Linked DNA regions of Homo sapiens. The protein of the gene in region 4 interacts with the protein of the main gene of each other region in a pairwise test. Each region holds a gene or a part of one and is shown on either strand. Other genes may lie near its edges. The genes, in order: OIP5, VIM, KIF1B and SKIL.

Evidence for each region.
Region 1: the proteins of SKIL (region 4) and OIP5 interact in binary tests that used the Homo sapiens proteins (3 or more experiments, as listed by UniProt).
Region 2: the proteins of SKIL (region 4) and VIM interact in binary tests that used the Homo sapiens proteins (3 or more experiments, as listed by UniProt).
Region 3: the proteins of SKIL (region 4) and KIF1B interact in binary tests that used the Homo sapiens proteins (3 or more experiments, as listed by UniProt).

What each region holds. Positions count from the first base shown.
Region 1 is NC_000015.10:41,308,467-41,316,239, reverse strand, and holds the end of OIP5 (protein Mis18-beta), read left to right. Parts: intron 1-2,885; coding exon 2,886-2,967; exon of another isoform or gene 2,968-4,342; intron 4,343-6,390; coding exon 6,391-6,486; 3' UTR 6,487-6,967; downstream 6,968-7,773. UniProt on the Homo sapiens protein: Required for recruitment of CENPA to centromeres and normal chromosome segregation during mitosis.
Region 2 is NC_000010.11:17,223,701-17,231,806, forward strand, and holds the start of VIM (vimentin), read left to right. Parts: upstream 1-4,540; 5' UTR 4,541-4,824; intron 4,825-5,575; 5' UTR 5,576-5,722; coding exon 5,723-6,285; intron 6,286-6,949; coding exon 6,950-7,010; intron 7,011-8,106. UniProt on the Homo sapiens protein: Vimentins are class-III intermediate filaments found in various non-epithelial cells, especially mesenchymal cells. Vimentin is attached to the nucleus, endoplasmic reticulum, and mitochondria, either laterally or terminally.
Region 3 is NC_000001.11:10,374,570-10,382,523, forward strand, and holds the end of KIF1B (kinesin-like protein KIF1B), read left to right. Parts: intron 1-284; coding exon 285-477; intron 478-685; coding exon 686-804; intron 805-1,975; coding exon 1,976-2,018; 3' UTR 2,019-7,034; downstream 7,035-7,954. UniProt on the Homo sapiens protein: Has a plus-end-directed microtubule motor activity and functions as a motor for transport of vesicles and organelles along microtubules.
Region 4 is NC_000003.12:170,388,450-170,396,403, forward strand, and holds part of SKIL (ski-like protein), read left to right. Parts: intron 1-1,773; coding exon 1,774-2,015; intron 2,016-2,586; coding exon 2,587-2,811; intron 2,812-3,809; coding exon 3,810-3,968; 3' UTR 3,969-7,954. UniProt on the Homo sapiens protein: May have regulatory role in cell division or differentiation in response to extracellular signals.

The DNA.
Region 1 (7,773 bases), on a different chromosome or scaffold from region 4:
TCCTGGGTTCAAGTGATTCTCCTGCCTGGGCTTCCCAAAATGTTAAGATTACAGGCATTAATCACCATGCCCAGCCTCAATTTTTAGATTCTTTTTTTTTTTCTTTGAGACGGAGTCTTGCTCTTTCGCCCAGGCTGGAGCTGGAGTGCAGTGGCACCATCTCGGCTCACTGCAAGCTCCGCCTCCCAGGTTCACGCCATTGTCCTGCCTCAGCCTCCCGAGTAGCTGGGACTACAGGCGCCCGCCACCATGTCTGGCTAATTTTTTTGTATTTTTAGTAGAGACGGGGTTTTACCGTGTTAGCCAGCATGGTCTTGATCTCCTGCCTTGGCCACCTAAAGTGCTGGGATTACAGGTGTGAGCCACTGCGCCACCAATTTCTAGATTCTTAAGCAATTTCTATTTAGAATTAACTTTAAAGTGGGAAAAAAAACTGTAAATGTGTGCTGTTAGTAATCCCACATCTTTTTTAGAAATCAGTACAAAAGTAAATGTTCTAGAGAAGCAATAATTGCATTTTTGTTAGGGCAGTAAGCTTTTAGTAACATATTTTTAACATAAATTTGAAAAGCATTATGGGATTTTGGTTAATTTCTTAATCTTTAAAATGAGTTGGATAAAAGGTCAGGACATTCTTTTTGATTAAGTAGAAACTTTGGCCTTTTCCTCTTGGATTCGGGATGGCTGCTGCAATTACAGTCATTACATCTATTGATGATAGCATCCTAAACATGAAGGAAAAGGATATGGAGAGTATGGGAACACAAGAAAATTCCCCCTTTTCATCAGCATAAATTTTTTTTTTTTTTTTGAGACAGAGTCTTGCTCTGTCACCCAAGTTGGAACACAGTGGTGTGATCTCAGCTCATTGCAACCTCCGCCTCCCAGGTTCAAGTGATTCTCCTGCCTTGCCTCCCAAGCAGATGGGACCACAGGTGCGCTCCACCACAGCCTGCTAATTTTTGTATTTTTATTAGAAATGGGGTTTTACCATGTTTGCCAGGCTGGTCTCAAACTCCTGACCTCAGGTGATCCCCCCGCCTCGGCCTCCCAAAGTGCTGGGATTACACGCATAAGCCACTGCGCCCCGCCAGCATAAATTTTCTTAATCTTTTTTTTATTCTTTTTTTTTTTTTTTTTGAGACAGGGTCTCACTGTCACACAGGCTGGAGCGATCATGGTTCACTGCAGCCTCAACCTTTTGGGTTCAGGTGATCCTCCCAACTCAGCCTCCCAAGTAGCTGGGACTACAGGCATGCCACCACATCTGGCTAATTTTTGTATTTTTTGTAGAGATGGGGTTTCGCTGGCCAGGCATGTTGGCTCACAGCTGTAATCCCAGCACTTTGGGAGGCTGAGGCAGGCGGATCACTTGAGGTCAGGAATTCAAGACCAGCCTGTCCAATATGGTGAAACCCTGTCTCTGCTAAAAATACAAAAATTAGCTGGGCATGATGGTGGGCACCTGTAATCCCAACTGCTTGGGAGGCTGAGGCAGAAGAATTGCTTGAACCTGGAAGGCGGAGGTTGCAGTGAGCCGAGATCTCGCCATTGCACTTCAGCCTGGGTGACAGAGTAAGACTCTGTCTCAAAAAAAAAAAAAAGAGATGGAGTTTCGCTATGTTGCCCAGGCTGGTCTCAAATTTCTGATGTCAAGCCATCTGCCTGCCTCAGCCTCCCAAAGTGCTGGGATTATAGGTGTGAGCCAGCACACCCATCCCATTTTCTTACCCTTGTTGGCCAGAACTATGTCACATGATCACCTCATCTGAGAAAGCAAATATGTAACAGTAGGCTCATGGCAAAAATCTGGATTCTGTTGGCAATAAAGAAGTGAGGAAGGCTGGGCTCGGCTCACGCCTATAATCCCAGCACTTTGGGAGGCCCAGGCAGGGGGATCACCTGAGGTCAGGAGTTCGAGACCAGCCTCGCCAACATGGTGAAACCCCATCTCTACTAAAAATACAAAAATTAGCTGGGCGTGGTGGCGCAAGCCTGTAATCCCAGCTACTCGGGAGGCTGCGGCAGGAGAATCGCTTGAACCCAGGAGGCAGAGGTTGCAGTGAGCTGAGATTGTACCACTGCACTCTAGTCTGGGCAACAGAGCGAGACTCCATCTCAAAAAAAAAAAGTGAGGAACAGCTACTGGGAATAGGTGACCAACACTATGTCTCATACTGGGATTACTTTCTTTCAAACTGTGCTACAGGATCCTACTGATGAAGTGTAAAGCTTATAATCATCGTAATTATTCATATGAGCCTGGTTTTTGTCTTTAATTTACCCTGAGATAATTTTGTCTCTGGTGGGATGCGGCAGAGATCCTCTCCAATTTGTTTATTTTTGAATTTGTTTTTCCAAGAAAATGCAGTCATCCTTCAGTATCTGTGGTTCCAGGACCTCACCAGATACCAAAATCCATGGACACTCAAGTTTCTGATATTAAGTGGTGTAATATTTGCATATTACTTTTGGATATCCTCCTTTTTAAAGTATAAAAGTATATATTTTATACTTTAAAATAATCTCCAGATTACTTATGACAGCTAACGTAATGTAAATGCTATGTACATTACAAATTTACATAGGAAATTTACAAAGTTGTTGTAATGTTAAGGGAATGATGACAAGAAAAAGAGTGTACCTGTTCAGTACAGACACAATCCAGTTTTTTTTTCCTGAATATTTTTAGTCTGTGGTTGTTTGAATCCATGGATGCTATACCCATGGATATGGTGGGCCAACTGTAACATCATGAGTCTTGAAATGAAAATCATTAAGAAGCCAGGCTTTTTTTGACACATACTTTCTTTAGAAGGTAAGTTTGGTTCTTTTATAATCTTAACCATGGTATGACACTAATATTTTTCTTTTTTCCTATCTAGCTATCTCTTAAAAACAAAAGCCATAGTAAATGCATCAGAGATGGATATTCAAAATGTTCCTCTATCAGAAAAGATTGCAGAGGTAAAATTTCATGATGGTTGTATGCTTTTTTAAAATACAGACAACTCTTGATAACTTCTACCAATGAACTTGGGGATGATGAAATGGCATGATGCTCAATAATCCTTTTTACTTGATTTGACCTTCCCTATTGAATTTGTAATGAAAAACAAAATACTAAAACCACACTGTAAGGTATAGTTCAGGAAGAAAGGAAAAGCTGCTCAACTGCTGCACTCCTGCATTCTCCTTTGTGCTGGGAATGGATATCATCATCTTGCCATAGAGGTGTCTTCTTTGCAAATACCTTGTAATTGCTCAACTGTCTCAGACATAAGAGTGATGAAACAGTTATTAAGAATTCCTGGCCGGGCGTGGTGGCTCACGCCTGTAATCCCAGCACTTTGGTAGGCCAAGGCGAGCAGAACATGAGGTCAGGAGATGGAGACCATCCTGGCTAACACAGTGAAACCCCATCTCTATTACAAATACAAAAAATTAGCCGGGCGTGGTGGCACGTGCCTGTAGTCCCAGCTACTCGGGAGGCAGAGGCAGGAGAATTGCTTGAACTGGGAGGTGGAGGTTGCAGTGAGCTGAGATTGCGCCACTGCATTCCAGCCTGGGCAACAGAGCAAGACTCTGTCTCAAAAAAAAAAAAAAAAAAAATTTAGCCGGTCATGGTGGTGGGCGCCTGTAATCCCAGCTACTTAGGAGACTGAGGCAGGAGAATCGCTTGAACCCAGGTGGTGGAGGTTGCAGTGAGCCGAGACTGCGCCACTGCACTCCAGCCTGGGCAACAGAGCGAGACTGCGTCTCAAAAAAAAATAATTCTTGCCTGGGCGTGGTGGCTCACGCCTGTAATCCCAGCACTTTGGGAGGCTGAGGCGGATGGATAACCCGAGATCAGTAGTTCGAGACCAGCCTGACCAACATGGAGAAACCCTGTCTCTACTAAAAATACAAAATTAGCCGGGCGTGGTGGCACATGCCTGTAATCCCAGCTACTTGGGAGGTTGAGACAGGAGAAGCACTTGAACCTGCGAGATAGAGGTTGTTGTGAGGCAAGATCATGCCATTGCACTCTAGCCTGAGCAACAAGAGTGAAAATCTGTCTCAAAAAAAAAAAAAAGAAAAAAAGAAGGCTGGGCATGGTGGCTTATGCCTGTAATCCCAGCACTTTGGGAGGCTGAGGCAGGCAGATCACCTCAGGTCGGGAGTTTGAGACCAGCCTGACCAACATGGAGAAATCCCATCTCTACTAAAAATACAAAATTAGCCGGGCGTGTTGGCGCATGCCTATAATCCCAGCTTTTCGGGAGGCTGAGGCAGGAGAATCGCTTGAACCTGGGAGGCAGAGGTTGCAGTGAGCCGAGAGCTTGCCATTGAGAGCGAAACTCTGTGTGGAAAAAAAAAAAAAGAATTCTTATTGGCTGGGTGCGGTGGCTCACACCTGTAATCCCAGCACTTTGAGAAGCCGAGGTGGGTGGATCATGAGGTCAGGAGTTCAGCCTGGCCAAGATGGTGAAACCCCGTCTCTACTAAAACTAGAAAAATTAGCCAGGCGCAGTGGCAGGCGCCTATAATCCCAGCCCCAGCTACTCAGGAGGCTGAAGCAGGAGAATCGCTTGGACCTGGATGGCAGAGGTTGCAGTGAGCCAAGATCACGCCATTGCATTCTAGCCTGGGTGACAGTGAGAATCTATTTCAAAAATAATAATAATAATAATTGGTATGGGAAATGACTTTGGAATGGCAGTATGAGGAGTTCCATGGATAGGATCCAGGAAGAATATTATAAAGGAAACAACCATCTTAAGTCTGTGGAAATTTTCTTCAAGGTATATGGCAAATACAGAAACATTTATTTGTTTATTTATTTTTGAGACAAAGTCTCACTCTGCCTCCCAGGCTGGAATGCAGTGGCACAGTCTTGGGTCACTGCAACCCCCTCCTCCCGGGTTCAAGCGATTCTCCCACATGGAGAATCCTTGTCTCTACTAAAAATACTAAAAAGCCTCCTGAGTACCTGGGACTACAGGCGCGCACTACCGTGCCCAGATAATTTTTGTATTTTTAGTAGAGACGGGGTTTTACCATCTCTGCTAAAAATGATGGCCAGGCTGTTCTCGAACTTCCGAGCTCAGGTGACCCACCCGCCTCGGCCTACCAAACTGCTGGGATTACAGGTGTGAGTGCCAGGTTCAAGTGCTTCTGCTTCAGCCTCCCCAGTAGCTGGGAACCCAGTTGCCCTTGCCCCCAGCTTGCTTGTAGGGTGGAAATCCTATGCTGGGAGGGGCGAATGGAGATTATCAGAAGCCACTGCTCTTGCCCTGCTGAGTAACAACACTAAATTTCATGCTAAATATAGCTGTAAGAACTCTTAAAAATTACCTAATTGCAACAGTTATCTGTTCTAAACCTAATAACCAGAGTTAACTTTGCAGACCATTAGTAGAATGTTAAAGTCAGAGAGGCATTTGTTACTGTTAACAAAGTGTTAAAAGAAAAGCTAAATTCTTGCCACTGGAAAAGGAGGAGAAGCCTGTCTCCACAAAGCACTGTGACCAGACTTTATTCATCTTCACAGTAGCAGTGCTGCTCAGCAATGTTTTGTCTTTTTTCACACGAAACTTTACATCTGAGGATCTTTTTTTTTTTTTTTTTTGAGACGGAGTCTCGCTCTGTCACCCAGGCTGGAATGCAGTGGCACGATCTTGGCTCACTGCAAGCTCTGCCTCCTGGGTTCACTCATTCTCTTGCCTCAGCCTCCTGAGTAGCTGGGACTACAGGCGCCCGCCACCGTGCCCAGCTAATTTTGTTTTTGTATTTTTAGTAGAGATGGGGTTTCACCGTGTTAGCCAGGATGGTCTTGATCTCCTGACCTCGTGATCTGCCCAACTTAGCCTCCCAAAGTGCTGGGGTTAGAGGCGTGAGCCACTGCGCCTGGCCACATCTGAAGATCTTACTGTGCGCTACGTTGTTGTATAAAGTTCTTCCAGAATTAGAAGAAATTTATTCCTCAAATGCATTTAGACATTGCCAGCTCCCAATTACTAGATATAAACTAGCTTAAATTTGAAATGGTGTTTGTGACCAGCAAATTGACAGTTAAGCTTAAAATGCCCAGATATCCATCTTGGTGTGGTGGCTCATGTCTGTAATTCCAGCACTTTGGGAGGATCACTGACTGCCAGGAGTTCAACACCAGCCTGGGCAACAAAGCAAGACCCCCATCTCTACAAAGAAAATTTAAAACACATGACTGTAGTCCTAGCTAATCAGGAGGCTGAAGTGGGAGGATCACTTGAGAGCAGGAGCTTGAGGCTGCAGTGAACTATGAATGTGCCACTGTACTCCAGCTCAGGCAACAGAGTGAGACCCTGTCTCTTAAAATAAGTAAAAATAAAAAAAGATGCCCTGATATCTATATATTTCTCTTCCTAGCTGAAAGAGAAGATAGTGCTAACGCACAATCGCTTAAAATCACTAATGAAGATTCTGAGTGAAGTGACTCCTGACCAGTCCAAGCCAGAAAACTGATCCTGTACCAAAGCTTGAGTGTCAGGTTCAGGCTTTATTGCTGTCTTCAACAACAGGTGCTGCTTAGTCATTTCTTGAAAAAGATTGGCTTCAAGAATGGAGGGGAAATGCAGTTTCTATTTACCTTTAGGCTGATTTTCCAAATTATTTGTGAAGCTGTTTTTAGAAGATGAGAGACTAAGGATTCTTCTCTTTTATAGCTATTTGCCTTAAGAACTTACTTTAGATTCTTATTGAATTCATAATACTTATCTCTGAAAATGTCTTTGACTGTAAATTTAGGAATTAAGATGCAGAGTCCCATGTGTCCTCTGATCTAAAGTTGCATGGTTGGTCTGAAAATAGAGTTGGGCTTAATGTTGACTTCTATTACTCCTGCATGGAGCAGTTGTTATGAATACTAATACATCACTTTTTAACTTCTGTAAAATACAGATCATAATATTCTATAGGTAATGTTTAATAAATTGCCTGAATAATATACAATTTGTCTTTTTCAGTTGTAAACTGAGGTTAACAGAGAAATAATGAAAGCAATGATAAAACGAAACAGTTACCAAAGTACTATTTTCTATAATTTTGTTTTATGTAGCACTTTGAGTAACTTATCAAAATATTAATTTAATATATATTTGTAAAGTGTTAGACTAGGTGCTGGGGATAAAAGGTAAGCAAAAATAGACACACTATCCTTAGAATTTATAATCTAGTCAGAGAGGGACATTCAAATAATCACATAAAGATACATAAAATTACAGGCCTGGCGCAGTGGCTCACATCTATAATTCCAGATTTTCGGAGGCCGAGGCAGTGGATCACTTGAGGTCAGGAGTTCAAGACCAGCCTCGCCAACGTGGTGAAACCTCGTCTCTACTAAAAATACAAAAATTAGCCAGGCATGGTGGTGCGCACCTGTAATCCCAGCTACTCAGGAACCTGAGGCAGAAGAATTGCTTGAACCCAGCAGGTAGAGGCTGCAGTCAGCCGAGATCGTGCCACTGCACTCCAGCCTGGGCGACAGAGTGAAACTCCATCTAAAAAAAAAAAAAGATATGTAAAATTATGACGCTAGTAAGGGTTTTGAAGTAAAGGAACATAGGGATACACGCACATAAAGCAGGTAACTGACCTGGTCTGGGTTTCTGGGAAAGAAAGCCTCTGTGTAGAAGTGAAGTTTCAGCGGTGGTCTGAAAGACGAATAGGAATTAATAAGGTGATGGAGGGATGACCTTTATGAGGTCCTTAAAAGAAGGCCTGCCTAATCAAATTTACTTTTTCAGAATGTCA
Region 2 (8,106 bases), on a different chromosome or scaffold from region 4:
CAATCATTTTGTTTGTTCCTTTACGAGTATTGTCTCTCTGTATCATATACATATACGCAGACTCAACACTATGTTCCAAGAGGCTTTGGGCCATACCTGCTTTGGTCCCTTCCCCAGTGTCTACCAGACTGCCCGGCACATGGCAAATACTCAATAAGTATGTTTGGAGTAAAAGAATAAAAGTTGTGTATCACGATACCTTGTGAAGATTAAATGCAGTCATGTCTAAAGTGACTAGCACAATGCTTAAACATAATAAGCACCAGTAAATATTAGCCCCACACCTATATTTCTTCCTTCTATGAACTACTCATGTATTAATGTATATATTCGACAGATGTGCCTGGCTTTTCTCTAGCCACTGGAAATACAATAGTCAACAAAAGAGAGAAAAATTCCTACCTGCCCTTAGGGAGATTACATTCCAGTGAGGAAATGAGCAATTCCTGCCAAGAAGTTTAAAGAAGGAAGTTTTTGGCCAAATGTGGAGGCTCACACATTTAATCCCAACATTTTGGGAGGCCAGTGCTGGAGGATTGCTTGAGCCCAGGAGTTCAAGACCAGCTTGGGCAACATAGCAAGACCCTGGCTCTACAAAAAATAAAAAGTTAGCTGGGCATGGATGGCACTCCCAGCTTCTAGGGAGGCTGAGGCAGTAGGAATACTTGAGCTCAAGAGTTAAGAGGCTGCAGTGAGCTATGACTGCGCCACCGCACTCCAGCCTAGGCAACAGAGCAAGCCTTTGTCTCTCTCTCTCTCTCTCTCTCTCTCTATATATATATATATAAGTTTTAAAGAAAAAGGGGTGATGGCTTGAAGATAGATGCATTGGTGGCAGAAAAGAAAGCATGGAGGGGCCGGGCGCAGCGGCTCACACCTGTAATCCCAGCACTTCGGGAGGCCAAGGCGGGTGGATCACGAGGTCAGGAGATTGAGACCATCCTGGCTAACACGGTGAAACCCCGTCTCTACTAAAAAAATACAAAAACTTAGCCGGGCTTGGTGGCGGGCGCCTTTGGTCCCAGCTACTGGGAAGGCTGAGGCAGGAGAATGGCGTGAACCTGGGAAGCGGAGCTTGCAGTGAGCCGAGATCGCGCCACTGCACTGCAGCCCCGGGGGACAGAGCGAGACCCCGTCTCAAAAAAAAAAAAAAAAAGAAAAGAAAGAAAGCAAGAAAGCATGGAGGAACGGAAGCCAATTGCAGTATTGCAGGAAGGAGGTATGAAATGGCTTGGATCTGAGTGACAGCAACGTAACAGAGGAGTGGATCCAGGAAGAGCGGGGCATGATACCCATTGGATCTGAGATGGAAGAGTTAGTTAGGAAGTGGCAATGATGAAAGTTTCCAATCTTGTTGTTTTGCTGTATTGCCCTGAATAGACAGGGAAGCTGGCAGGGGAAGCGATGGTGGTTCATGGGCTTTAGGGCGTGAGACGAGCTAAACCCAGTCTTGAATGTGATTCCTCCTAAGAGGCAAAATGGAATCTAAATGAAAATTTTTAACTCACTAATGAAAGTAATGTTTTAGAATGCAGGTGAAAACAAATCTCCCTTCTTACATAGTATGATCACTGTTACGTCATTTGATTTTGTTTTTTACATCATTTTACATCGTAAACATGGTGTTATAGCTGTCTGCCAAATTCCTCTAAAAATATGCCCCTTCGCAGCAAGATCTGTGTTAATCATCCCATCTCTTCAGTTCCTGGAACACAGTAGGTCCCTAAATGATAAGTCCAGCACTTAATATTTGTGAATTGAACTGGTTGATAGTAAGCAAAATTTTGTTATCAAGGCAAACAGAAAAGAGAAGTGCATTTAGAGTCAGAAAGGCCTCGATTCAAATTCTTGTCCCCTTCTTCCCACCCCTGCTAGTCATACAACCACAAGAAAATTGCTAGCCTGCATCTTAGGCTCCTCATTAGTGAAATGGATGATCAAGTCTATCTTGCAGGAGGGTGTGAGTGCATCAAGTTAAATTAAATATATACACAGTGTCTGTCATTCAGTTGGCATCGACATTACCTATTATACTATTTATTATTATTACCTGTATTTCCATGGATTTTAGGTTTTGCTATGGTTTTCATGCTCTCAGTGTACCCTCCTTCTTCTTTCTAACATTCCATCCAAACAGTCCTGCTAGATGCTGTTCTCTTGGCATGGCTAGCCAGCTTTCCCAAAGCCTCCATAGGCCACTAAGCTTCTGTCCACACGGCTGGCTGGTCCGTCAGTTTAAGTCACCCAATTCAACTGACATCATGACAGCTTGCAAATTCCAAAATCACTGTTGGTAATTTAGATGTGGTAGTGTTTATGCCTGGCCTATGAATTATACCACCACGTCTTTATTTATATGCAACTTGCATCATGCTGTGTTGAAAGCAGCTTCCCAGTCCAGCACTTGAAAATACTTCTCAGATAGGTTTTCATAGCAATTAAAAAATAAACACAAAACCCGGGAAAGCTATGTCTGTGTACCCAAAAGATACCTAAGAACACAGTAGCATAGAGAGCAGGCTGAGTTGTCTCACTCAAGGATGTGAGTTCAGATTCATTGATCTCCCTGACTGAAAACTATCACCCATTGATTGAGGCACTGTATATCTTATCTCAGAATGAAATGAATTCTTAAGTCTCATGAATTCTACATGAATGAATGAAAGTGTTTCTGCAACTTTCACTTCTCTTGCAGCCCACCAAAAACAATGGCATTTTCTAATAGGAAAAACACATTGAACGCTGTATATGTGCGTATGTATATGTGTGTGTAGTACATACATATACTTTATTTTGAGACAGGTTCTCACTCTGTTGCACAGGGTGGAGTGCAGTGGTGTGCACAGCCTACTGCAGCCTCAATTTCCCAGGCTCAAGCAATCCCCCTGCCTTAGTCTCCCAAGTAGCTGGGACCACAGGTGTGCACCATCACGCCTGGCTTTTTTTGGTTTCATATATATATGTTGCCTAAGCTGGTCTCAAACTCCTGATCTCAAGCAATCCTCCTGCTTTGGCCTCCCAAAGTGCTGGGACTACAGAACACCTACACTTTTATACATTCTATATGCATCAAACAAACATATGTCTGTGACAAGAGAGCAGCCTATCACAGCCCAGAGACTTCAGAATGGGGACAGGTTGGAAGGAGGAGCTACCTATCCCTGAGATGATGAAGAGGACCAGTGCCCATTCCAGGAGACATCACCGCAGCCCTGAGGAATCGGCTATGGGCACCAGCAGGGCACAGTGCCACACCTCGCCAATGCCTTGTCCTCCTTTTCCATAGTGAGTCAGTCAGCAAGCGTCGCATTGCCCTGGGATCGGCACTGCACGTAGAAGTGAGTTCCACACTCTCTTCCTCCCATAGGGAGATCACTTTTCTCATTCTAAGGGTTCCAGGCACACTCACAATGGTGGCATTTGCTGAGCAGTGGCTTGAATAAAGGGCTCTCAGAAAGCAAGATGTAACTCAGAGCATAGGCTTGTCCTCCAGGGCACCCAGCCCCAGGAATGCTCTTGGGGAATGACCTGCAGCCTCCCAGTGAAAGAGAGAATAAAAGAAAGCCCCAGCAGGCGAGCTGGGCAGTAGAGAGTCCTGTAATTCCACCTTGGCAAGCACCATTTGCAAGAACGAACTGGGATAAGGTAAACAAAATATTGCCTAAAAGAGGCTTGTCCAAAGAAGTCAGAATACGCTCTTCATTTACCTCTAAATTATGTTTCTTAAATACCAAGTAACCTGCAGTACCCCCTGCCGCCACCAAAAAAAAAGAGAGAAATACTTTTTTTTCTCCTATCCACTGCAGAATCAATTTTACAGTGGTTCTGCAGTTAATCCTTTCAGTACACCATAAATCTAAATACTCAAAAAAACCTGTGCCTTTTCAATTGCTACTAAATCACGAGAAGACTGATTTACATAGTCTCCTTTTATCTCCCTTGGCGGGTAAGTACTCAGCTCTGCTCGTTACTAATATTGAAACAACAGCCCTTGAATTGAGTGATTTCCCTAGAAAGGTTAAGGTGACCGAATCTGAACACTCCCTCCATGTCTTGGACACGAAGTTTTTTGCTGCGTAGACAGTTTTATCCCCCTCACCCCAAGGTCAATTGCACGAATTCTTTTGGAAAACAGGACCTATGGCATTTCCCAGACAAATCACCGTGAACCCTGTACTGTGCATTGCTGTCCTAAAATTAACACATAAATCTATTGCCGCCAAAGATTCTGTCATTTGTGTTACATAATTGCCTTTCATTTGAACTCATTAATCAAATTGGGGTTTTTAAGCAACACCTAATTAATTCTTTAACTGGCTCATATTATACCTTTAATGACTTCCACCAGGGTAAAAACCACTGATCACTGAGTTCTATTTTGAAACTACGGACGTCGAGTTTCCTCTTTCACCCAGAATTTTCAGATCTTGTTTAAAAAGTTGGGTGTGGTTTCATGGGGGGAGGGGGAAGAGCGAGAGGAGACCAGAGGGACGGGGGCGGGGACTCTGCAAGAAAAACCTTCCCGGTGCAATCGTGATCTGGGAGGCCCACGTATGGCGCCTCTCCAAAGGCTGCAGAAGTTTCTTGCTAACAAAAAGTCCGCACATTCGAGCAAAGACAGGCTTTAGCGAGTTATTAAAAACTTAGGGGCGCTCTTGTCCCCCACAGGGCCCGACCGCACACAGCAAGGCGATGGCCCAGCTGTAAGTTGGTAGCACTGAGAACTAGCAGCGCGCGCGGAGCCCGCTGAGACTTGAATCAATCTGGTCTAACGGTTTCCCCTAAACCGCTAGGAGCCCTCAATCGGCGGGACAGCAGGGCGCGGTGAGTCACCGCCGGTGACTAAGCGACCCCACCCCTCTCCCTCGGGCTTTCCTCTGCCACCGCCGTCTCGCAACTCCCGCCGTCCGAAGCTGGACTGAGCCCGTTAGGTCCCTCGACAGAACCTCCCCTCCCCCCAACATCTCTCCGCCAAGGCAAGTCGATGGACAGAGGCGCGGGCCGGAGCAGCCCCCCTTTCCAAGCGGGCGGCGCGCGAGGCTGCGGCGAGGCCTGAGCCCTGCGTTCCTGCGCTGTGCGCGCCCCCACCCCGCGTTCCAATCTCAGGCGCTCTTTGTTTCTTTCTCCGCGACTTCAGATCTGAGGGATTCCTTACTCTTTCCTCTTCCCGCTCCTTTGCCCGCGGGTCTCCCCGCCTGACCGCAGCCCCGAGACCGCCGCGCACCTCCTCCCACGCCCCTTTGGCGTGGTGCCACCGGACCCCTCTGGTTCAGTCCCAGGCGGACCCCCCCCTCACCGCGCGACCCCGCCTTTTTCAGCACCCCAGGGTGAGCCCAGCTCAGACTATCATCCGGAAAGCCCCCAAAAGTCCCAGCCCAGCGCTGAAGTAACGGGACCATGCCCAGTCCCAGGCCCCGGAGCAGGAAGGCTCGAGGGCGCCCCCACCCCACCCGCCCACCCTCCCCGCTTCTCGCTAGGTCCCTATTGGCTGGCGCGCTCCGCGGCTGGGATGGCAGTGGGAGGGGACCCTCTTTCCTAACGGGGTTATAAAAACAGCGCCCTCGGCGGGGTCCAGTCCTCTGCCACTCTCGCTCCGAGGTCCCCGCGCCAGAGACGCAGCCGCGCTCCCACCACCCACACCCACCGCGCCCTCGTTCGCCTCTTCTCCGGGAGCCAGTCCGCGCCACCGCCGCCGCCCAGGCCATCGCCACCCTCCGCAGCCATGTCCACCAGGTCCGTGTCCTCGTCCTCCTACCGCAGGATGTTCGGCGGCCCGGGCACCGCGAGCCGGCCGAGCTCCAGCCGGAGCTACGTGACTACGTCCACCCGCACCTACAGCCTGGGCAGCGCGCTGCGCCCCAGCACCAGCCGCAGCCTCTACGCCTCGTCCCCGGGCGGCGTGTATGCCACGCGCTCCTCTGCCGTGCGCCTGCGGAGCAGCGTGCCCGGGGTGCGGCTCCTGCAGGACTCGGTGGACTTCTCGCTGGCCGACGCCATCAACACCGAGTTCAAGAACACCCGCACCAACGAGAAGGTGGAGCTGCAGGAGCTGAATGACCGCTTCGCCAACTACATCGACAAGGTGCGCTTCCTGGAGCAGCAGAATAAGATCCTGCTGGCCGAGCTCGAGCAGCTCAAGGGCCAAGGCAAGTCGCGCCTGGGGGACCTCTACGAGGAGGAGATGCGGGAGCTGCGCCGGCAGGTGGACCAGCTAACCAACGACAAAGCCCGCGTCGAGGTGGAGCGCGACAACCTGGCCGAGGACATCATGCGCCTCCGGGAGAAGTAAGGCTGCGCCCATGCAAGTAGCTGGGCCTCGGGAGGGGGCTGGAGGGAGAGGGGAACGCCCCCCCGGCCCCCGCGAGAGCTGCCACGCCCTTGGGGATGTGGCCGGGGGGAGGCCTGCCAGGGAGACAGCGGAGAGCGGGGCTGTGGCTGTGGTGGCGCAGCCCCGCCCAGAACCCAGACCTTGCAGTTCGCATTTCCTCCTCTGTCCCCACACATTGCCCAAGGACGCTCCGTTTCAAGTTACAGATTTCTTAAAACTACCACTTTGTGTGCAGTTGAAGGCCCTTGGGCACAATGAGAGCCAGTCCTCCAAACTTTCAGAAAGTTTCCTGCCCCTTCTGGCAGGCTGCCAATCACCGGGCGGGAGAAGGAAGGAGGGGAAGGCGGTGGAGGGAGCGAGACAAAGGGATGGTCCCTCGGGGGCGGGGATGGCGGGGCTGTCCTGTAGGTCTGTGCGGCCACCGTGATTGCCCCTCTGCGCGGTGCCCGAAGTCCCGCTGAAACCTGCCGAGGGCAGCAGGTCTGAAAGCTGCAGGCGCTAGTTGCGCGGAGGTGGCGCAGCTGCTCTGGAGGCGCAGAGCGAATACGTGGTGTTTGGGTGTGGCCGCCCCGCCCCTGGCGGTTTCCTCGTTCCCCTTTGGTTAATGCGCAACTGTTTCAGATTGCAGGAGGAGATGCTTCAGAGAGAGGAAGCCGAAAACACCCTGCAATCTTTCAGACAGGTTTGTAGACTCTCTTCCCACTCGCAGCCGCCTGACCCCACCCAACACAACCCACGAGCAATTCTAAAAGTTGCTTAACTCACGTCTAAAAAGTGCAAAACTTCAGGGCTGCGCGTAAAGCCCTCTAGTGGCGGGAAGACCACAGGTTGGAGCTTCTCATGATTAGAAAAATATTAATAAAACCCCTTGAGCGATTTTTTTTTTTTTTTTGAGACGGAGTCTTACTCTGTCGCCCAGGCTGGAGTGCAGTGGCGAGATCTTGGCTCACTGCATCCTCCGCCTCCCGGGTTCAAGCGATCCTTGAATGATTTCTAAGCAGTTCCTTGGGACATAAAGAAAAATCTTTTAACTTTTTACTTTGTTTCCCAAATGTTGCACAGTTTTGCAACACATTGACCTTCTGGTTTCGAACGGTTACAATTTTAGATTGTGGTTTGCCAAAGTCAAGTTGCTTAATTTTTACAAGGCCACAAAAAGCGCAATTATGCCCTGCAGTTTAAAATGGAAAACGTGTTGGAAGATAAGAAAACTTAGTTTCCAACTGGAATGGAGCCAGCAAGTTTCTTTTCTTCTTTGCAAATTCTATTGTGTCATTAAAGTTCGATGGAAGTATCACTATGCACAACTATTTTGTGATCTAATAAGGGTGAAAAGGAGCCATCTGTCCCCTTGGCTAAGGGGTATTAATGGTTTCTATGGGCTTCACTATGGAATGTAGATACAGACATTCTGGCAAATGTGGTGGCTCTGGACAGAAATAATAGGAGTCTTTGTATTCCCAGGGAAGCTTTGCAACAGGCTACATTCTTACTGAATATGTAATGATGTAAGCACGGTTCTAATTGGACACAAGTATTTGCTAACATCCGTTATCTAATATCTGGCCCAGACTTGAGAAGTAGGTAATGTAAAAAGTTTTTAAAGCTACAAGCATACCTCACATTTTAAAAGTCCTTTCTTGATTGGGTTCTTGTGTTCTTTAGCACTCTTGCCATAAAAAATAATAACAGTAATAAACCCAAGGCTGAAAAACTGAATTTTAACTAAAGGGTTTTTGTGCGTGTTTTTTTTTTTTTTCACCAAAATTAGATGGACT
Region 3 (7,954 bases), on a different chromosome or scaffold from region 4:
ATCTGTACTGTAGTCTGATGCAAGTTGAGTCTGGGGTGAGAGGGCCAGCCTGGGTTTCTCCAGTTGGGTCTCATAATGCATCTGCACCCTGGCGCAGCATGTTGCCATGGCACGGTTTCGCTTTTGCCGTATTACTTTGGCAGATAAGATTCTAGGCCAAATAGGTCATTTGCCTGTTTCATCGAATCTAAGGACTTGGCCTAAGTGTGGCGTATTTTGATGGTCCTCAGCACGATTATTTTCTTTTTGTGAGAAACTAACTTTTGTCATATTGTCGTTTTTAGCTCAGTGGTCTCTAAGAAAGGATACCTTCATTTCAAGGAGCCTCTTTACAGTAACTGGGCTAAACATTTTGTTGTCGTCCGTCGGCCTTATGTCTTCATCTATAACAGTGACAAAGACCCTGTGGAGCGTGGAATCATTAACCTGTCCACAGCACAGGTGGAGTACAGTGAGGACCAGCAGGCCATGGTGAAGGTCCGTCCTGCCCTGCCTTGGTTTCTTATTGCCACGTGTGCCCTTCTCTTTTGATTTCTGCACTCTCTGTTACGTGGTGTGAAATTTCCCTATTCTCTCTGGTTTTGAACTTCCTTTGTGAAGTGCTATATGCCTTGGGAATATGGCAAGGCAGTCCCCATTGCTGTCTCTGTAGTAACTTTCTTGTCTACCTGCATTTTTCTTTCAGACACCAAACACCTTTGCTGTCTGCACAAAGCACCGTGGGGTCCTTTTGCAGGCCCTCAATGACAAAGACATGAACGACTGGTTGTATGCCTTCAACCCACTTCTAGCTGGCACAATACGGTAAGAAGTTTTGTTGTTGTTGTTGTTGTTTTTGAGACGGAGTCTCACTTTTTCTCCCTGAAGTGCAGTGGCTTGGTCTTGGCTCACTGCAACCTCCGCCCCCTGGTTCAAGCGATTCTCCTGACTCAGCCTCCCCAGTAGCTGAGACTACAGGCACGTGCCACCATTGCCTGGCTAATTTTCGTATTTTTTGTAGAGACGGGGTTTTACCACAATGGCCAGGCTGGTCTCAAACTCCTGACCTCAAGTAATCCACCCACCTCAGCCTCCCAAAGTGCTGGGATTACAGGCCTGAGCCACTGCACCCAGCCTAGAAGTTGTTCTGTGTTTTCTTTCTCTCTTTGGCTTTTGGCTTCAGGAATATCAGGATAAATAGGAAAGGAAGAATTTTTCTTTTCTTTTTTCTTTTCTTGTTTTTTTTTTTTTTTTTTTTTTTTGAGATGGAGTTTTTGCTCTTGTGTGGCCCAGGCTGGAGTGCAGTGGCATGATATCGGCTCACCGCAACCTCCACCTCCCAGGTTCAAGCCATTCTCCTGCCTCAGTCTCCTGAGTAGCTAGGATTACAGGTGCCCGCCACCACACCCAGCTAATTTTTTTTTTTGTATTTTTAGTAGAGATGGGGTTTCACCATGTTGGCCAGGCTGGTCTTGAACTCCTGACCTCAGGTGATCCACCCTCCTCGGCCTCCCAAAGTGCTGGGATTACAAGCGTGAGCCACCACATCTGGCTTGAAAGGAAGTATTTTTCAAAATAAATTTAAAAGAGAGGAAGGACAGGAGTGTAAATTGGTTGTGGGGTGGTAATGAGGCCTCTGCATCTTGTAAGGCATTGTCATGTTCTGAACCACCAGGGATACTCTGGTCACACATGTGCACCAATTATTTTCCTTCTTTGTCTTTTTGTTCTCAAGAGTTCTAAAGATGGGGCTCAGGGGAGAGAGTAAAGGGAGGACAGTGAGAACCTTAATGGTCTCCCAACCTCCAGCCCTGTGATTCAGCCTCACGTTCTGAGGGCTTGTGTCACAGGGTCCCGGAGTAGACGGCTTAGAGGACTAGGCCTGCGGTGCCAAATAGGAAGATGCTCCAGGAGGGAGCCTCAGAGGGAGAGGACTGTGAGGGGACAAGACTTGTACCCAGACTTCTAATCCTACCTCCCCGTTTGTCCCCCATAGGTCAAAGCTTTCCCGCAGATGCCCGAGCCAGTCGAAATACTAAGTGACTCTGCCGAGTGCCCTCACTCGCCTTCGAGAGATAAAGAAAGCGTTACCTCTCATTTCTCTTTGTGATTCTTGACGGTGACTCTTGTATGTAATCCTGTGGCTTAACTACTTCTCCCTCCTTGTCCAGCACTTTTCTAGCTCTCCCGTTCCCCATCTCCATTGCTCTGTACTCTTTTCTTTTTTCTTGTGCTGAGAATCTCGTTAGTAGCATGTGGCCTAACAAAAGGAAAAAATGTTTTTAAACACACACACACACACACACACACACACACACATACACAGACAAAAACACAAAAACTCTGAGGGGATCTGGTGAATCTCCAAATTATTGTGGGTGTACTTTGGCTTCCTTTTGTATGATAGGTCCCCATCATGACCACCTCTGATGTCTGTGCTGCTGTCACCAGGCACCTTTGTTTTTCAAGACAACATACTTTTTTTTTCTTTTCTCTGTTTGTGATATCACTTTAATTTTTCTTGGGTGGCTTAGAGACTAAGGGAGGAGACATCTGGCCTTTTTAGAACCTGAGAGGAAAAAAAGAGTCTTTTTTTCCCCTCTGTCTCTTTTTGCCATGGCTAATCCCTGCATTTCCATTCAGGGAAAAGGTGGTAGTGAGCATAGAACTGCAACAGTTATATTCTGAGTCAAAGTTGGGGCTTTTTACGGCATAATTATGGAATTTTTATTTACTGGTAGAGAGGAGACGAGAGGCTTTTTCAGTGGGCCTGGGACAGTGGCTGCTCTTGACTTTGTGTGAAGGGAAATGCCAAGGATGCTTCTGGTGGACTTCAGGGGACCCCAGGGTTTGGCCGTGGGCCGTGATGGCAGCAGGCGGTGGGATGCTTGTAGCTCCTCACAGCAGGATTCCTGCCCACTGTTTTTTCTCTGTTGGGAGGGAAGCTCTTTTCTAGGAGTGTCTCAGTTCTGCTTTTGGCATTAGTGATGGTGGTGGTACAGTTGGAATTAGTGCCATGTCATACACAAATGTTCCACAAGGCGGGAGTGTTTCACTTTCTGGTGATAAACTTGATGGTCATTGTTATGATTAAGATAATGCCGGGCAGGCCGGGCACAGTGGCTCACGCCTGTAATCCAAGCACTTGGGGAGGCCGAGGCGGGCAGATCACGAGATCAGGAGTTCAAGACCAGCCTGGCCAATATGATGAAACCCCGTCTCTACTAAAAATACAAAATTAGTCGGGTATGGTGGCACATGCCTGTAATTCCAGCTGCTTGGGAGCCTGAGGCAGGAGAACTGCTTGAACCCAGGAGGCAGAGGTTGCAGTGAGCCAAGATCGCGCTATTGCACTCCAGCCTGGGTGACAGAGCAAGACTCTGCCTCAGAAAAAAAAAAAAATAATAATGCTGGGTAGTGACCTTGTGATTGTTACAGCTCCCTTTGATCAAAGAAATATAGCTTTCAGGCATAAACCTGGAAGTCTCCCTCTGAATCCAGCAGTTGTTTTCATTGATGCTTGTCAGGTTGAAGATGCTTTCAGTGATGCTCTCTATACTCATAAATAAGCAAATGTGGCAGGCTTTGCTTTCTGGATCCCAGGATTAAAACTAACCGTGACCACTACTCCAAACAAAACACAATATGCCTAGGGGCACGGATGAACGTCCAGGGAGCCCGGGCCCCAGGCTTTGTTGCGTGTTCCCTGCTCCTCTCCATCTGGTGTGGAAACACTGCCCAGGGAGAAAGGAGGAAGCTCACTGTGGACAGTCTTCTTTCCTTCTGACAGACCAGGTCATCTGGCTTCCGAGATCATCAGAGAAGATAAGTCTGTCTCTTTCAGCTGCCAGTAAGTTTTCCAGGATGAGAGGGGAAAAAGAAAGCCTCCAGTGACTTCAGTTGCTTTGCCAGTTGTCTTGGGATTGTTTTACACCATCCTTTACTTCCCTTGCTCAGACCTCTCTGTTTCACCATTGCTCAGGCATTCAGGAAAGTATCTGCTCACTCCCACTTGGTGAGTCCTCGGCCTTGAGGTTGCTGACTCTCAGGCGTTAGGCAGCTGGATGACTTCCCGCTTCACGCAGCAAAGGCCAGGGGCTTGCGCGCCTCTGCAGAGTTGTTGCTAGGGAGACTTGTGTCATCATCCACAACCTTGTTTCTCACTTCCTGGTTGGGCTCATCTCTGAAGAACAGGTCTCCCAGCTTCGCTCCTTATCACTGCATTGTGAAGAGGAGGAAAAGTGAATCACGGAGAGAGAAAGGAAAGGATAGAATCACAGGCTGCGTCTGCACCTGAAAAGTGACCCGCGGAAACTCTATGGCGGATTTTTTTTTTAACTTTCTTCTTCCTGTTAAAACATAGGTCACTAACTGTGATGTTATTTGTTTTCTAAGTGGTATGTGAGATTTTCTAATGTAGTTAGAAGTTTCATTGTCTGATGGACACAATATGCCCTTCCGGTTCTATTCAAACCAGCAGGATCTGTCGGTGCTTAGAGATGGCTGCCTGGACTGGAATCAAATCTAATTTCAGGGAAATGAAGATGGAATTTGAAGGTCACTTTTAAAATTAAGTCATTGATGCTGCTGTTACAGAGTGTGACAGAGGATCCATGTCTGTGACACAGGACGGTGGGAAGCCTGAGAGAGAGTGAAATTATGTGATACACTGAAATGACTTTTGTTTTTCTTCTAACTCATACAAAACTGGTTTGGAAAGTCTTTGCTTTGGAAGCGTCAGACATTAGAACAGGCCAAACTGGACTGTCTGTTCATAGCGTGCCTGAATAAGAAGGCCTCTTAGGGAGCCAGAGGGAGCAGAGTGGTCGTGTCCTGCGTGCTCTTCACCCTCTGGGGCGCCCCTGCTGCGGCTGGCAGGTGCAGACAGCCTTTGCTGGTCCCCAGCACGTCCAGGGTGGGTGCTCCCTTGCCCGACAGAACCATCCCCACTGTGAGGCTGTGAGAGATTTGTGGCAGGAACTGTTTATGAGGCTCTAGTTGTTGCTGTTGTGGCGGGAAAGTTAAGAAACATAGCCCTTAAGGAAACCACCTTTATGTATTTTCTTAAAGCACGCCTTTAAATAAGCAAAAACTTTAAAAGGCAGGAAAGAGAATTCTTAGGCAAATTCAGAGAAATAAGTGCTAGTTAATACTAATCACCTCCTCCTCTGTCTCTCATCCTCCTTTCTCCCATCAAAGCAAAATATGGCCTCACCACCAGCCCCAAATCAGTGCTCAGACCCTCTCTGTGTCTGTGTGCCCTCCTGGGAGTCAGTCAGCGCTCAGGCCAGGACTGTGCAGGGCCAGCCAGCCCATGCGCTAGTCAGGAGCACAGGCAAGGGGTGCTTGTGGCAGTGGCCGGGCACCTGAGCCCCAGCTCGTTGTTAAACGTGCTGACGGCAAGGGGCAATGGAGTGAGTTTCCCAACTAAGAAACCACTATTATATATTTTTTCCCTTCAGTCACATAGACTTCAGACAACTCTCCTATTTTTTATGGATTTTTCAGCTCATTTCAGATGAAGGAACTAAGTCATTGTGAACTGTCTCTTGAGATCTAAAAACAAGATGACTTTTCCTGGCACATATTCCAAAGCAAAGACTTTGTTGCCTGCTGCTTATTGTCTAATTTACAGGGATATTTAATTTTGTCAGGTCTATGTATATTTATCCAGCTATACTTACTTGCACAGTGGATTGGAGAGAAAGGATTCTCCAGTGTGCACACTCATCGGTACTCTTTCTGCATTTCCCTCGTGCTGTGTCCCGCTCGGGTTCCAATGGACAGTATCAGGGCTTGTTTGACTTAGGTCTTTCAGTTTTCCTTTCGGTTCCCTTTTAAAAATGTGATTGTTAACCTGCCTCTTGAAAGATTCAACCGGGTGTGGTGGCTCACGCCTGTAATCCCAGCACATTGGGAGGCCAAGGCAGGTGGATCACCTGAGGTCAGAAGTTTGAGACCAGCCTGGCCAACATGGTGAAACCCCGTCTCTACTAAAAATACAAAAAGTAGCCAGGCGTGGTGGCGTGTGCCTGTAGTCCCAGCTACTTGGGAGGCTGAGGCAGGAGAATAGCTTGAACCTGGGAGGTGGAGGCTGCAGTGAGTTGAGACTGCACCATTGCACTCCAGCCTGGGTGACAAAGCAGGACTCCGTCTCAAAAAAAAAGAAAAGATTCATGATGCTGCTGCTCCCAGAAGGTTTGCTGGATGTGTTTACATAGGACTCTAACTTGTGTGCACTACAGTTGTTCACCAGGGCCAGTGATTCACCCCAGTGTGTGGCCAGACCATGACTGTGTAGCAGGAATGTTTTAATTTGTGCTTCCTTAGTAAATTGAAATATCAGCTGAGAGATTATTTGCTGCTGTTATTCAAAAGGCCATTTATGAAGTTAGTATTTGAGCCCCATAAGATCTTTAAAAAGCCTCCAATCATTTAAAGGAAGAAATCAGAGTTGCTATAAAATTCAGTAAAAAGCTCATAGCCAAACGGCTGTGCTCAGATGGAAAGTCTGAGCTGAGGTTGGTCTCTTGCCAAACCGTGGCTGTTGTGTGTTGTTCTTCATGTCTTCGAGTTCATTTTTTTTCATTCTGCCTATTCTGGCATCAGCTCACTTGAGGAGTCCCTCAGCCTTCTTGTATTTAAGGCATCGTCTTAGACTTTGTGGCTCTAAAGTACCTGTCTGTTGAGATTTCAAGTCTCTTGTCACCATCCTCACACATGACAACAAAACCCATAATGCATAAGTGGCCTTTTTGAACCAAGACTTTGCAAACTGATCTCTCCCCCGTGAAGGAGTTGAGCACATTAGCAACAATGTACATTAATTTTGGATTTTCATTTTCATGTTTTATTTTGTAAATATTATCTGATGTTTGGAGCTTGAGTATACAGACTGTAAATATAGTTCTTGTATTTGTACTAATTCTGATTCTTTTGCTGTATAGCCTTAGATGTGCAATGCAGACACTATCTAACTGTGTGTGGTAACCTTGCGTCACGGAGCTGTTAGTGAACGAGGTAAAAATAATAAAGGTACAGCCAGTGCATCAGAAGGTTCTCGATGTGCATTTATTCTTGCACCCCTTGAAAGGTAATTGCACAAAGATTTCTTTTCTTGATTTGCAAAGATAATACCTTTCTAAGACAGAAGTCACGATATCATCGCTTAAGTATTCCTTTCTGATATTCAAAATCGTGGTTTTTATATAACCAAGAAAGCTAATATGGTGCTGTTTCTTTGAAAGTACTTTTCTCCCAAAGATGTAAGTGGTTATTTTAGCTAGAAGATTTGTTGTTTTTCTCCTGAAGCCTCCTTGTATGCCTTCCAATAATTCTGTAGTGTTGTGTTGGCTTCTTTTTTTTTTTTTTTTTCTTTTTGAGACAGAGTCTTGCTCTGTCACCCATGCTGGAGTGCAGTGATGTGATCTCGGGTCACTGCAACCTCTGCCTCCTGGGTTCAAGCGATTCTCCTGCCTCAGACTCCTGAGTAGCTGGGATTACAGGCGTGCGCCACCATGCGTGGCTAATTTTTGTATTATTATTATTATTATTATTATTATTATTTTATTTATTTATTTATTTATTTTGAGATGGAGTCTCACTCTGTCGTCCAGGCTGGAGTACAGTGGCATGATCTCGGCTCACTGCAACTTTCCACCTCCCGGGTTCAAGCGATTCTCCCTGCCTCAGCCTCCCAAGTAGCTGGGATTACAGGCATCCATCACGCCTGGCTGATTTTATTTTTAGTAGAGAGGGGTTTCACTGTGTTGGCCAGGCTGGTCTCAAGCTCCTGACCTTGTGATCCACCCGCCTCAGCCTCCCAAAGTGCTAGGATTACAGGCTTGAGCCACCGTGCCCAACCTATAATTATTTTTTTGAGATGGAGTTTGACTCTTGTCACCCATGCTGGTGTGCAATGGCACCATCTCAGCTCACTGCAACCTCTGCCTCCCCAGTTCAAACAATTCTCTTT
Region 4 (7,954 bases):
TAGTGTTCTTTTTTTTTTCCTGAGACAAAGTCTGGCTGTATCACCCCAGCTTGGCTCACTGCAACCTCTACCTCCTGGGCTTAATCCATCCTTTCACCTCAGCCTCCCAAGTAGCTGGGACTACAGGGATGTACCACCATGCTCGGCTAATTTTTGTATTTTTGGTGGAGTTGGGGTTTTGCCATGTTGAGGCTGGTCTCAAACTCGTGAGCTTAAGCAATCCACCTGCCTCAGCCTCCCAAAGTGTTGGGATTACTGGTGTGAGCCACCGCGCTTGGCCGTGTTAGTGTTCTTTGAAGCACAAAAGTTTTAAATGTTTATTACATCCAATTTATCTATTTTTTTCTTGTTTTAGGTATCATATCTAAGAAACTATTGCCTAATCCCAATTCCAAGAAATATTTATTTATGTATTTATTTATTTATTTATTTATTTTTGAGACAGAGTCTCACTCTGTTGCCCAGGCTGGAGTACAGTGGTGCCATCTCAGCTCACTGCAACCTCCACCTCCCGGGTTCAACCAATTTTTCTGTCTCAGCCTCCTGAGTAGCTGGGATTACAGGTGCGCGCCACCATGCCTGGCTAATTTTTTTTGTATTTTTAGTAGAGACAGAGTTTTACCATGTTGGTCAGGCTGGTGGTGAACTCCTGACCTCAGGTAATCCACCTGCCTCGGCCTCCCAAAGTGCTGGGATTATAGGCGTGAGCCACCACATCCAGCCAAGAAATTTATGTTTAAGGGTTGTAGCTCTTACATTTAGGTCTTTGATCAGTTTAGAGTTAATTTTTGTATACAGCATAAGGTCCAACCTTATTCTTTTGCATGTGGATATAGTTGTCCGTATGTTGAAAAGATTATTCTTTCCTTTTTTTTTTTTTTTGAGACGGAGTCTTGCTCTGTTGCCCAGGCTGGAGTGCAGTGGCGCTATCTCGGCTCACTGCAAGCTCCGCCTCCCAGGTTCACGCCATTCTTCTGCCTCAGCCTCCCGAGTAGCTGGGACTACAGGCGCCCGCCACCAAGCCTGGCAAATTTTTTGTATTTTTTAGTAGAGACAGGGTTTCACCATGTTAGCCAGGATGGTCTCAATCTCCTGACGTCGTGATCCGCCCTTCTCGGCCTCCCAAAGTGCTGGGATTACAGGCGTGAGCCACCGCGCCTGGCCAGAAAAGATTATTCTTTCCTGACTGAATTGCTTTGGCACCTTTGTCAACAACAATTGCCTTATAAAGTATGAGTTTTTTAAATTTCTGGACTCTGAATTCTGTTCTACTGATCTGTATGTCTATCTTTAAATCATGTCACACAGTCTTGATTTCTGTAGCTTTGTAGTAAGCTTTGAAATTGGGAATTGTGAGTCTTTCAACTTCGTTATTCTTTTTCAAGATTATTTTGCCTATTTTGGGTTTGTTGCATTTCCATATGGATTTTAGAAACTGCTTTTCAATTTCTGCAAAAAATCCAGTGGGGATTTTGATAGGGATTGCACTGATAAGTAGATCAATTTGGAGACTATTACTGTCTTAACAATATTAAGTCTTCCAATCCATGAATTTGGGATGTCTTTCCATGTATTTAGGTCTTAAATTTCTTTTAGTGATGTTTTGTAGTTTTCATTGTACTTGCACTGCTTTTGTTAAATTTATTCCTATTTTATTTGTTTTGGTCTAATTTATAAATGAAATGTTTTAAAAATTACATTTATGGATTGTTCTAGTGATTTTTTTAATGGAGTGATATTCATACTTTGTTACTTGATTTTTTTCTCTCCAAGATGCATCAATCTCAAATAATTCTACAAGTAAAAGGAAATCTGAGTCTGCCACTTGCAACTTAGTCAGAGACATAAACAAAGTGGGAATTGGCCTTGTTGCTGCCGCTTCATCTCCGCTTCTTGTGAAAGATGTCATTTGTGAGGATGATAAGGGAAAAATCATGGAAGAAGTAATGAGAACTTATTTAAAACAACAGGAAAAACTAAACTTGATTTTGCAAAAGAAGCAACAACTTCAGATGGTAAAATTGTTATCTAAATGATAGTCCATTATGAAAAGATACTTTTGTATATTGCTCTGTCGCCCAGGCTGGAGTGCAGTGGCGCAGTCTCAGCTCACTGAAACCTCCACCTCACAGGTTCAAGCAATTCTTCTGCCTTAGCCTTCCGAGTAGCTAGCATTACAGGCACGTGCCACCATGCCTGGCTAAATTTTGTATTCTTAGTAGAGATGGGGTTTCTCCATGCTGGCCAGGCTCGAACTTTTGACCTTGTGATCCACCAGCCTTGGCCTCCCAAAGTGCTGGGATTACAGGTGTGAGCCACTGCGCCCAGCCCCCCTGTATATTCTTAGTAAGAAAAGTCAAAACGAGATGCTACAAATGTACTTAAGATTATTGTTTTACACTGAAAAGCAATTTTAATATATTTTAAAATTTTTTGAGAAAATAGTTTTTTAAAATAATTACCTCTATATAGAACTGATAATGATAGCTGAATTTTAGGTATTTTCTGTGCTATGTTTTCCAGAACTGAAAATTTTAACATGGTGAAAATAAAGTAAAACTTGTATTGTGATTCTTTACATTACAGGAAGTAAAAATGTTGAGTAGTTCAAAATCTATGAAGGAACTCACTGAAGAACAGCAGAATTTACAGAAAGAGCTTGAATCTTTGCAGAATGAACATGCTCAAAGAATGGAAGAATTTTATGTTGAACAGAAAGACTTAGAGAAAAAATTGGAGCAGATAATGAAGCAAAAATGTACCTGTGACTCAAATTTAGAAAAAGACAAAGAGGCTGAATATGCAGGACAGGTAAGAATTACTGTTTGTATAATGGTGCCCTTTCAGCATGGAAATGGAAACTGTTACTTCTCTCTTTTTTTTTTTTGAGACAGAGACTGCTCTGTCGCCCAGGCTGGAGTGCAGTGGCACAATCTCAGCTCCCCACAACCTCTGCCTCCCGGGTTCAAGCAATTTTCCTGCCTCAGCCTCCTGATTGTAGCTGGGATTACAGGCGTGCGACACTATGCCCAGCTAAATTTTGTATTTTTTAGTAGAGACGGGGTTTCACCATGTTGGTCAGTCTGGTCTTGAACTCCTGACCTCATGATCTGCCCACCTCAGCCTCCCAAAATGCTGGGATTACAAGCATGAGCCACTGCACCCGGCCACCGTTACTTCTCTAATAAAGGAATTACTTTTTGTCAAGCTCAGTTTACTAAGCTAGATTTCAAAATAGATAATTCTGTTAAACATAGCTTTATGCTGTATTGTCCAAGATGATTATTTTGATGTTTGTTGCTTTTATTAGTTTAAATTTTTATCGGGTTACTGCAGTTTAGTTACCTAAATTGCTAATCTCTAGCCCTCTGAATATTATATGTTATATTATTTTAATGTAGTATATGAGCTTTCAAATCTACAAATTAACAAACAGGAACTGTTGCCTGTTATGTTCAAAAGCACTGGAGCAAAAATAAGCAATTCTCTTTTGTTAATAGAATCTCACAATTTAAGGAACATGAACAAATAACTAACATGAGCAGGCTGTGATGAGCGGTATAGTAAAGTATAGGGCATAATGAACATGAACATGCTGGATGTGTTCCTTCCTCTTGTTCCTTTGCTTTTTCTTAAATTTAGTGTCCTGTCAGATGTCAGATTAATAGTATTAGATGCTTAATGGATTTAGTATACATGAAATAGTTCGTTTTGTAAAAAGTAATTTGAAAATAGATATTTTCTATGATATGAGGATTAAATGGAAAAACAAAACAATTAAAATTGATAGCGCCTTTTAAATCACATAGTTGGCAGAACTGAGGCAGAGATTGGACCATGCTGAGGCCGATAGGCAAGAACTCCAAGATGAACTCAGACAGGAACGGGAAGCAAGACAGAAGTTAGAGATGATGATAAAAGAGCTAAAGCTGCAAATTCTGAAATCATCAAAGACTGCTAAAGAATAGAAACTGTTAAAGAGATTCATCTGTGTATTACTGACAAGGTTTTTTTTGTTTGTTGCTTGCTTTGGTAATTGAATTCTGAAGAATTTATCTGCATGACGATAACTAGGCATTCTATCCATTTGTAGATCAGAGAAAGTGAAGAGATTATATATTAGTACTTAAATTTTTACATTTTCCAAATGAATGAAAATGTATGTTTCTTTGTACTTTTTTAAAAAAATCAGCTTAGTAACAATACTATATGGTTTCAACTAGTAGGTAATCTGCTTATATTTCTAATGCAAACTTAACAATTGTGTACTTTTTAAAAGCTGCAATATGTGTTGGAAAATAGCTGTGGTCAATTTTGTTATCCATATTTCAGACTCAATTTTAGATACAATGGTGGCTTTATATTTTAAGTATATAGAGCTACTCAAGGAGTTGAATCTCCCCTTTTCTCATTAACACAATTTTTCTAAGTTGATATGGTGTACTCATTAACATACACCAAATTTACTTTTACTTTGTTCAGATTGTGGAATGAATTTCCACCAGTTCTCTTCTTTTTAATGTGTACCCTAGGAGGAATTTTACTGAGGTTATAGCATACCCCATGAGCACAGTGGGGAAGAAGAATGTGTTGTTATGTGCTGCTGCTAAACAGAAGCAGCAGTTGTAATTTGTTTTTCAGTTTAAATGTGGTTATAGTTAGATTTTTTTTTAAGCAGCAACTTTTCAAAAATAAAATGTGATAATTTCTGAACTTTTGTTTGTGTTGTTAATAGTGGTGTGAAAATATTAACGTTCTTGAGAAAAACTGATACCACTGTTGTGTATCAGTTTCTATACAATCCATAATCCTCCTGTACAGTTTTTACATGTAGTTATGAGTCTTACTAAAATTTATATAATGGACTTGTTTTCCTTTAAGTTGTAAAATGTTAAACACCTTGAAGGTTATTTTGGACTTCTGTATGTTTAAATGTTGTCTTACCAAAATTTGCACGAATGGACCATTTTCATTTACTACTTAATATCAAAATCAGGAATTTACAGTCAACTGATAGTACATGATAGGTGCATATAGGACAGTTTAGTTACCTGCTACTAAAAGATTTTTAGATAAGTTTTAGAAGATAAAGGAATTCCATAGTTTCAGGAGGGACAACATCTTCTGCACTTTTTTTTTGCACAGAAAAGTCTGTCATTCTCTAATGGCAAATTTCATATTTGTTAATTCTTGGCTCAAAATATATTAGGTAAAATTCTTAGATCTGTTTTTAAAGGGAGTTTCCTGAAACTATCATTAATTGACATTATTACCCCATGGATTTTATGGGATAATAAATGTTTTTCATGTTCTCTTATAAGATACTATGTATGAAATTACTTCAGAGAGCTATATTTATTTTAAAATAAATTAGCTAGGGTTAAGGTTATATTCTATTTCCAGCATAGAAGGTAGATAATCTAATGGTGTAGAAAGAATCACTAGGTTGTCATTTAACCAGTTATTTTCATATTTTGCTTAATAGTACATATCCAAAAAGAATTTTGTACTTCCCCAAATGTAATTTATTTACTAAATTGAGTATAACCTAAATGTGTGTTTTCTATTTTCCATTTAAATTTTGCTATATTAAGACTAATTTAATTCGTTGAGTCTTGGAATCTTCTCAAGGAGGAACAAATATTAAAATGACATGTAGAAACAAATTTTTTTTTTTTTTTTTTTTTTTTTTTTTTTGAGACAGAGTCTCGCTGTCTCCCAGGCTGGAGTTCAGTGGTGCAATCTCGGCTCACTGCAAGCTCTGCCTCCTGGGTTCAAGCCATTCTCCTGCCTCAGCCTCCCGAGTAGCTGGGACTACAGGCACCCACCACCACTCCCGGCTAATTTTTAGAAACAAATATTTAAAATGACATATTCTCCCAATACAATCTATTTAGATCTGGAGAAGGAAAAATCAGATATTTATGATATAGTTTTATTTTAATTTTGAATTATTTGTGTCACAGCTCAGCTTTTTGGAAGACAAACTCAAACACCTATAATTTCATTTATATTTCTAATTCACTTGGAACCTTTCTGCTTTATGTTACCTAGAAAATGATAATTTGTTTAACCCAAAACTTCTAAAATAAATTGCTTAATCCTTGAAATATGTTATTGGAAAATTTTAAGCAGTGCTTAAACACCATTAAATTATTATGAACTTGTAATTCAGAATTGAGTAAAGAAATATTTTTTCTAGTCCTTCATATATTGAAAACTTGCCACATGACATTGTATCGTCTTCATTTTCCAGAAGATGCGTTGGTGTGCCATAGGTTTCTAACTTCCTTGAAAATAGTTTTTTAAGTCAATTGTAAATATACGTATTATTGTTAAAAGTAACTTTAAACTGCAACACATAGCTTCAAAACAATATAGAGATTTTGTAATACCTTATAAGTGGAGTTGGCTAAAATACCTTATCCATATAAAACTTATTCTATTCTTTGCATGCTTATTTTGTGTGTTGGTTGCTAGCTTAAAGTTTGATTTGTTGTTACTCTTTGTGTGCCAAATTCACTAGGCAAGCGGATTTTTCCTCAGACTTCAAAAAATAATTCTTTTAAGAAAAAATGTAAAAATGTTTATTCTAAAAAGCTGCATTAAAGGGACAACCTATAAAAAGTTTTGCTAGCTCATCTTTAGAAGGAAGAAAGAATATTAGCTTGGGTGATGTTTAATTTGGGTGGCGATAGTTTCTGTAGGCTAAACTTTATGAGAAAAGTGTACCTACTCTATAAAGGTAATAAATGTAAAACCTCTTGCTGTTATTGAGGAAGCTCTTCAACTACCCTAAATTTCACAAATGTAACTTATAACACTATGAAAAGATTTGACCAACAATTTACGTTTGCTGTGTGCTTTAGTTTTTGTTTAAGCATATTCTTTTGCTTGAATTTCTGTGTTCATGAGAGTTAGGGTGTTTTATGCTTCTTGAACTAATTTTATAACATATTTAATATATTACCAGTTAAGATATAAAATCATTTGTACATAGCGAATTGTAAAGCAGCTATTAAAGTAGGTGAAATAAAGTATATATTTGCCGGTTATCCATATCTTTTAGAAGTCCTGACAGAACAACCAGTTTATTTGCACATAGGTAGCTTCTGTTTGAAGGAAGGTAAAGTTATAAGGAAACTCAAATACTATAAGATGTGTCAAGGTATTTCTCCAGAATTAATTGCAAAGCTAGTGCTGAAGGATTTTAATCAGCTTCTAAAATTTTCTTCTCAATAAGGCATATGTTTTGATTACTTAGGGAAGATTCCTCATTTTTATTTGCCCTTTATGCATTTAATCCACATGATAGGACATTAAAAATTAATATAAAGAAAAATCGTGCTCATACTGTACATCTGTTTCTGTGCTTGGAACTACTTGTTAATAGTTTTTATCGAAGCTGTCAGCAATAAGGGACATAAAACTGCTGTATTATACATTGTGGAATTGAATAAACAGCCTAATTTTTTTTTTCTAGTATAGGGTACTTAAGCATTTCCACTTTTGGAAGAAAAGTGTATTAGTATTTTATATTGCATTTCATTTAAAAGGACAGTTTTTTTTTTTTTTTTGTAAATCCATTCATTGAAATGGTTTCTAAACTGTATAATGTAATTTGGAGCCTATTTAGTAATAGAATTAAATGTCCTATGTAGTGCTACAATTTTTGAATTAGAAAGTGATCAAATGTAAGAAAAAAATTTAAAAATTCAGCCCAGAAAACAAAATAGTGTATTAAATTAGTTTAATGTAAAAGGAATTTATAAGATTTTTTTCCTCAATATAGATACCTCACTTGAAAAGAAAGCACAGCATACTTAAAGTAGTTCTAGTAAACATGTCCTAGAAAACAGTTGCTAAATGTAGGACATCTTTTGAGGAATTAGTTTATGAGAAATAAAATTTTACTTGTTTTTACTATCCTGTTAGAAGTATTTGTTTATCCTGA